2 linked regions of the Homo sapiens genome follow. The protein of the gene in region 1 interacts with the protein of each later gene in a biochemical or structural test. Each region holds a gene or a part of one and is shown on either strand. Other genes may lie near its edges.

Region 1 (3,748 bases):
CTCTCCCGTCCCACTTTCATCCCCAGGAAACTCTAGTGTCAGAAACTTTGAGCTCCATTGCACTGCAGGTGCTGTCATTAGTCCTGCAAGCCGTGGCGGGCCAGCCCCGCCGCGCTGCCTCTCGGGGTCAATTAGCCCTTTGCCTGCCCAGGTACCTGGGGCTCGAGCTCTCCAGCAAGCAGTGGCCGCGCACCCATCGCCGCTGCCGCTTTCGCCTCGGGTGGATCCAGTGACCCGCAGGCTCGGCAGCCTGGCCGGGCAGTAAACAGACAAGTTTGAAGGACTCCGGCCAATAGCAAGTTGAACTACAGGAAGAACTCTTCCCGGAGCCAAACACGGCAACCGACGGGAAGGCCGGGCTTCTGGCTCAAGTGTGCCAAGCCTTTTTTTTTTTTTTTAAGAGGTCAGGCAGGCGAGTAAGCGCCCCTCAAGTCAATGGGGAGAGGGCTCCGGGAAGCCGGCGGAAGAGGCCCAGAACTCCGGGCCCCGGACCGAGGCGCGCCCGCCTGCTGCACTCCGGCTGCCCGGGCTGGGCGCGAGTTGCGTCTGACGCCACAAGGCTCGGGCGACTGGGGGCGCAGCGGTCGCCAGCAGCACACACAGGTGCAAAGCCCGATTTTCTGAGCGCCGCTCTCCACCGCCCTTCGGGCTCGGCTCGGGAGAGGCCCAGCCAGCACCGCCCCAGGACCGCGGCCCCGGCGGTGCGGGTTCTGCCCTCGGGGACCCGACAGGGACAGAAGAGTCTCCTCTGACTGGGGATTTGGGTCTCCCATGTCCCGAACAACAGGCGCCACCAGAAGGGATCCCGCTTAGGCTCCCAAACAAAACGCTCGGGAAAGAAAAGCAGGGGGTTAAGGAGAGAAAAGAGGGACTCAGAGTGATTTTTCACGATAAATAAAGCAAACGCACACATACAGGGTAAGTTTCAAATGGAAAGAGGGGTGACCGAAAGCCCAGGGAAGAGGCCCCGGTCAAGCGGTCCCTCCACGCCTCCCGGGATGGGTGAAGAGGGCAGGGGAGCCACTCGAGGCAGCCCCGCCGGCGGCTGCAGGTTCGGCGACCGGAGTGCCAGAAGGAACCCACCTGACTGAGAATCGCTGGGCTGGACGGTCCCCGCCGCCACGAGAAGGCTCACCCAGACCCAAAGTCCTGTCGCCGGCTTCATTTTTTGGAAGTCTCAGATCCCGTGCTGACAATTACATGTCCAAATGGCATATCCCCCTTTCGGGCACGCGGAGGAGATCCCCCAGCCGGGCGCGCGTGGGGGTGCGAGGGGGGCGGGCGCGGCGCGCGCGGTGTGGCGACTCCCAGGGCGGGCGACCGAGTCCGCGCCCGCGGGTCCAGGGCCGGGGCCCGAGGAGGGGGCGAGTGTGAGCGCGTGTGTGCGCGTGTGGGAGTGTGCTCGGTGTGTGCGCTTGGCGCTCTGGGCCGGACTGTGCAGCTATTTCCCCGCGTGAGCCTTCGCTTGCTCGCTCCCTCCTCACTTTCTCTCTCTCTCACTGGTTGGTCAACAATAAAAAAGGAAGGGGGGCGAAAGGTTTCCAAAAAAAGTTGATTGCAAAGAGGCGGTAGGTTTCCGGCCTCTCCCCGCAGCCGGGCTATGTTCTGCTCCTTCTTCAGTTTCCTTGCACCTCCAGTCCAAATCGGGAGGGGAGCGGGGCGGGGGGAGCTTCTCGCTTCTCCCCGGATCCCGTCCTTCTTTTTCCTCTCAGCTTTCCTCACACTTGTCCGGCGGCTGCGGTAATTAAAGCTCCGAGCGTCATTTCCAGCGCTCCGCGGTCTCCAGCTGCAGCCCACAGAGAAATTAATAAGACTCCAGAAAAAAAAAAAAAAAAGGTGCGGGGGGCGGTGGGAATAAAACAACCCTCCACGCAACCAGGCCGGCTCTGCTCAGCCGCGCAAACCCCGCCCATGCTCTGACCCAACTAGCCACGCCCTTCCCCCCCCCTTCCAAAGGGAAATCTTATTGGCTCAGCCACTCCCCAAAATCCTGGGCCTCCGGAGTTGGGAAAACACCTGTCAGGGAAAGGGAGCCTCTTGGTGGGGGCAGGGGAAGCTGGATTTAAAGGGCTCACCGAAGCCATGCACTGAAGCACTCGTCTTCCCTCCCTGGCAGAGGCCTGGGACAGCTGGCCTGCTGAGTGGACGGACCATTGGAGGGCCGCTTACGGAAATTTTTTTTTTTTTTAAACAAGAAAGTCAGCATTTTCTCCGTTGCCCCACGGTGCTCATCTACAGACAAGACTTTCCCTAGAAATAAAAGTCAATGTTGCTTTCAGCAAAAAGCCTCCGCCCGCAGTACTCTGCCACTCATGGTCCACAATTAGAAAGTACTTTAAAAGTGTGTACAGCAAGTAACTGGTAGCCCCTGAGGATTAGGTAGTGGTAGGGGTATAATCACCGCCCCGCCTCCCGCCCCCAGTTATGCCATCTCTCCGATTACTCCCACATTTCTAAACTGACCAACATTGAGCCAAACTAAACTTTCACATTTATAAAGGCATATCCTTTGATTTTTAGATTTTATGTTTTTTTTTCACCTTTGGAGTTCATTCTTATTAAGCAGATTCTAGTCCAAAGCCACTGATTTGATCTTAAAGGGCTAGAAATTGTCCCCAGCCTGAAAGAATTTAAGGAGGCCACATCAGAACATAATTAACCTTAAATGATTCTGTTTATTCTACAGTAGACCCAGCTTTAGGCCCCTTCCTTGTCCTCACTCTGCACATTCATGGTCCCTAATCTGGAGGTCATTGCTAGTTACGAAAGTCTCTGACCTTTTCTGAATCTAAAATATTCTGGGACTGGGTCATTTCAATGTACATATCCCTTGCCTTTTACAGCTCTGAAACCGCACCCTGGCAAGGGCCAGAATCTGCTGGGGGTAGTTATTGGTTTGCTATTTGTACAGGCATTCTATGTATGAATCACTTTCCTTTTTTGGTTTTTCTAGAAGCAGCAAATATATAAATAAAAAGTATCAGGGGAGCTTAAAAATCAAACCACCCTGCCTTTCATTTGAGACCTTGATCTCCATTTCCCACTCTCTTATCTATAGCCCCATCCCTTAAGAATTTCCATGGAGCTGAGAACAGATAGGAGGTACAGATGCCTGAAGCCTGAAGCTTTCCCTTTCTTAGACCCACAGCAAATAACAGGCTCCATGAAGACGCCCAACAAGCTGAGCGTGCGGTTTTACCAGAAGCAGCCTAGGGCAGAGAGGAACTAAGCCTAGAGCAGATGACGGAGACTTGACCAGAATGGTACTGATTGCAGCAAAACTGTGCACACTGCTCTTTGGGATTATCTTTGTTTTCTTTTCTTTTCTTTTTTTTAATTACTCTTTCTCTCTGTTTTCTCTTCTTTCATTCAATCTCTTCTCATTCCCCTTGTCTTAAATCCTTTTGAAATTCTCAGGCACCTCTCTTCCATAAAAGCTACTTCTTTTCAAAACTTACTTTCTGTCCCTAGAATGACAATTTAAATGAGAAAAACATCTTCCTTTTGTAAAAGTTTAAGTCTCTGTAGTAAAAAAAAAAAAAAAGTCTGGTTTCTGATGGCAATTATGTTGCACGAAGTGAAGGAATGGGCCAGGTGTGGTGGCTCATGCTTGTAATTCTAGCATTTTGGGAGGCTGAAGTGGGAGGATCCCTTGAGGCCAGAAGTTCCAGACCAACCTGGGCAACATAGTGAGACCTCAACTCTACCTTTTTTTTTTTTTTTTTTTAATGAGCTGGGTATGGTGGTG
Region 2 (3,748 bases), on another chromosome or scaffold:
AGAGGTTGCAGTGAGCCAAGATCGCACCACTGTACTCCAGCCTGGGTGACAGGGCAAGACTCCATCTCAAAAACAAACAAACAAACAAACATACACCATCGGGACCACCTATCAACACTGTACCTCAACTACAGCCTGGTGCAGTAGAATAAACTGTGGGATCCAAGCCTATTCCATCAGTGACTCACTAGGTTGACATCGGGCAAGATCTCTTTATGCCTCCCTTTCTTTAATGCAAAGATGCAGGTATTATAGCAATACCTCAGTCAATGTTAACTCCTCCCTTCTCTTTATGGACTCTTAAGGATTATTTATATGAAGACCACAAAATCATATAGGCCACCTCCCTTACAACACCACACTTTGGGTTTGGTAAGCTGTGGGTTTGATCCCGGTTTTCACTGAAAACTGCATGCGTGTATGCACGTATGTCCACACACCTCTCCATGAATGTGTTCATCCGCAGGAAGAAGCCCACGTGCCAGGCGTCTGTGGGGGAGGGGATAGTAAAGTGGTCTTTCGCTCTAAGAAAGGTTATCTATTATTTGAATTTTTCTCGTTGGGGATGATTTCTATCATTATAAAATATTTTTTTTAAAGGAAGAATCTTATTGTAAAAAATGTGTCCAAAACCCAACAGATATTCCTCCTATTTTAAGTAACTTGCTAACAACAAAACTCTAGCAAGACAATAAGAGAATCATACCAGTCCCAGGAACTTGTAATATCACAGAACGGATCCTCAATAAAGGGTCTTCATAAGGCTAATGGAATGACTCCCACCTGAAAGATTCTTTAAACATCTTCTTGGTTGAGCTTTCTTGCAATAATTTATCAATCCGACAGCAGGACCTCTGGTTCCCCTGCCCTGGGCCCATCAGCGCCCCCTGCCAAGGGTCCCCTACCTTGCCATCAGAAGCAGTGTTGATCCTGTAATGGTACACCCTCCCTTCGTATCTCAGCGAGATGGACCTCTGGCCAGGACTGCTCTCACTCTCACGCACCAAGAAGCTGCCATTGATCCCGCTGCTCAGCAGATACTCAGCGGCATTGCGGGACACAGGCCCATGGTACCAGGAGTGTTTCTCCAGACTGTTGACTGGCGTGATGTAGTTGCTTGGGACCCAGCCTTGGCCATTTTTGGTTTGGGCTTCACACCATTCCCCATTGTGATTATAGCCTAAGACCCGGAGCTTTTCACCTGAGAAGAAAGGAACCAAATCAGACATATCAGCTTTGGAAACCAGCTTCGTTCTTTTTCATTGATTCTTGTGTAACTACTAAAAATCTCCAAATTCCTAAATACCAATTTCATTTTAACAAGTCCACATAAAGATATGCATTTATAAGTGTATGAGAATTCACGTTTACATTTGAAGCTTCCTGTTTGTACTGAACAGATAGGTAAGTGTATAGCCTCAGTTTTTATAAATCAATTATGTTTATTCAAGTGCTCTGTTCCTAATATAAGACATTTTAGGGAAATAATGCTTTTTCTTAGGGGAAAAATTGCGTTCAGTATTTTGTCCAGCTGTCCTTTTCAGTATAAAAAATAGGGCAAGTTCTGTTTTTGCCCAGGGCTATTGTACAAGAACTCCTCTAAGGAGAGTCGACTCCCTTAGAAACATGCAGTTGTTGTTTTGGATATCCCTGCAGTCCAGATTTCAAAGCTGCTCCTTTAACGAGCAAAGGGTGGTAGGTCAAACCGCAATTCCCAGATTTCTATCTCCTGCAACCACCACTAGCTGCCCACAACCCTTTTACCTTTAGTTATGCTTAGAGTGTTATCTCCACTGGCCACAAAATCATACAGTGCAACGAAAAGGTTGGGGTCATTTTCACTGGGTCCAGCGAGAAGGTTTTCCTTGGAGTTCCAACGAGCGGCTTCACTCAGACCCTGAGGCTCAAAGTCAGATGCTACTGGCCGCTGAAGGGCTTCTGGAAGAGAAAGGGGGGAACAGAAAAAAGAAAAAGGAAGAGAAAATTGGGAGAAAAAATTAGTTTTATTCTCAGAAGCAAAAATATTTGTGTTTCCAACATTACACATTCCTATTTCATTTCTTAACATCTGTACATACTATTATCATTAAGGTGGTTTTTAAAAAACTCTTCCTTTACTAAATCTTGTGGAAATTAAGTATTTTCACTCCAAGGTGGTAATTATTGTTCCCCAATAGTTTGAGCTTCTAAAATTCATGGATTCAATATGACTTTAGTCAAATTAAAACAGTCTATCCACATATGCATTTGCCTTTGCTTAAAATATGCAATGAAAATTTCTTGCTTTAGCCGGGCATGGTGGCTCACGCCCGTAATCCCAGCACTTTGGGAGGCCAAGGTGGGTGGATCACCTGAGTTCAGGAGTTTGAGACCAACTTGACCAACATGGTGAAACCCTGTCTCCATTAGACATACAAAAATTAGCCGGGCATGGTGACGCACACCTGTAGTCCCAGCTACTCAGGAGGCTGAGGCAGGAGAATCGCTTGAACCCAGGAGGTGGAGGTCTCAGTGAGCAGAGATTGCGCCACTGCACTCCAGCCTGGGTAACGAGAAACTCCGTGTCAAAAAAAAAAGCCGGGGGTGGATCATGAGGTCAGGAGTTCAAGACCAACCTGACCAACACAGTGAAATCCTGTCTTTACTACAAATACAAAAATCAGCCGGGCATGGTGGCAGGTGCCTGTAGTCCCAGCTACTTGGGAGGCTGAGGCAGGAGAATTGCTTGAACCTGGGAGGCGGAGGTTGCAGTGAGCCAAGATCGTGCCACTGTACTCCAGCCTGGGTGACAGAGTGAGACTCCATCTCAAAAAAAAAAAAAAAAAAAAAAAGAAAAGTCAAATCGTACAGAAGGGCTTAAAATGAAAGACAAATACTTTCTATCCCAGTCCTCTCCGCTCCCAGAGGCAGAGCTGTTTTTTTGGTGATCACCCCCACCTCTCTAAGTACCAGCTAGATCACTGGAGTCCTATTCTCCGTAACAGACGCACACCTTCACTGCCTGTTCTTCCAACTAGGACAGCGTCTCTGAGGACTTACTTCACAAGACAAGGCTATTAACACACCCCACCCGTCCTTCCAGCTTTCTTGCCCCCACGACCACCCTCAAATATGTTCTTCTGTAAATTTTTTTTTTTAACCTTGTGGCAATTATTATTACAGAATAGAAAAAACTGTTACTAAACTTCCATGTTTTGTCTGAAACAGATTCTAAAAGTTGGAAATCAATCAACAGCTCTTAAATTAGAAAATGTGTGAATATTATTCATTACAGGGTCAAATAGGTTATTTGTTCCTGAAGTTTCTTCTTGCCTTTTTTTTTTGAACAGGGCTCAAACGCTCCAGAATTTCTTTGTGATAAAGACAACGTGTAGACGAGTTCTTGCAAACCAGCAAATCAAATAACCTCAAGTAGATCTTACAGTTGAAGAACATTGTGGAGTGAAATCCAAAATACTCATTTAAGGAACTACAATTTAAAAATCACTAACTGGGCCAGGCACAGTAGCTCATGCCTGTAACCCTAGAACATTGGGAGGCTGAGGCAGGCAGATTGCCTGAGCCTGAGCTCAGGAGTTCAAAACCAACCTGGGCAACACGGTGAAACCCCGTCACTACTAAAATAGAAAAAACTAGCCGGGCATGGTGGCGGGCGCCTGTAGTTCCAGCTACTAGTCCCAGCTACTCAGGAGGCTGAGGTAGGAGAATCGCTTGAGTCTGGGAGGCGGAGGTTGCAGTGAGCTGAGAT

What was found. The genes of interacting proteins can lie anywhere in the genome.
Region 2: the proteins of ERBB4 (region 1) and ABL1 form a complex in vitro, tested with the Homo sapiens proteins (2 studies listed by BioGRID and IntAct, with this or other methods).

What each region holds. Positions count from the first base shown.
Region 1 is NC_000002.12:212,537,366-212,541,113, forward strand, and holds the start of ERBB4 (receptor tyrosine-protein kinase erbB-4 isoform JM-a/CYT-1 precursor), read right to left. Parts: upstream 1,438-3,748; 5' UTR 1,166-1,437; coding exon 1,084-1,165; intron 1-1,083. UniProt on the Homo sapiens protein: Tyrosine-protein kinase that plays an essential role as cell surface receptor for neuregulins and EGF family members and regulates development of the heart, the central nervous system and the mammary gland, gene transcription, cell proliferation, differentiation, migration and apoptosis.
Region 2 is NC_000009.12:130,852,254-130,856,001, reverse strand, and holds part of ABL1 (tyrosine-protein kinase ABL1), read right to left. Parts: intron 1,939-3,748; coding exon 1,765-1,938; intron 1,202-1,764; coding exon 906-1,201; intron 1-905. UniProt on the Homo sapiens protein: Non-receptor tyrosine-protein kinase that plays a role in many key processes linked to cell growth and survival such as cytoskeleton remodeling in response to extracellular stimuli, cell motility and adhesion, receptor endocytosis, autophagy, DNA damage response and apoptosis.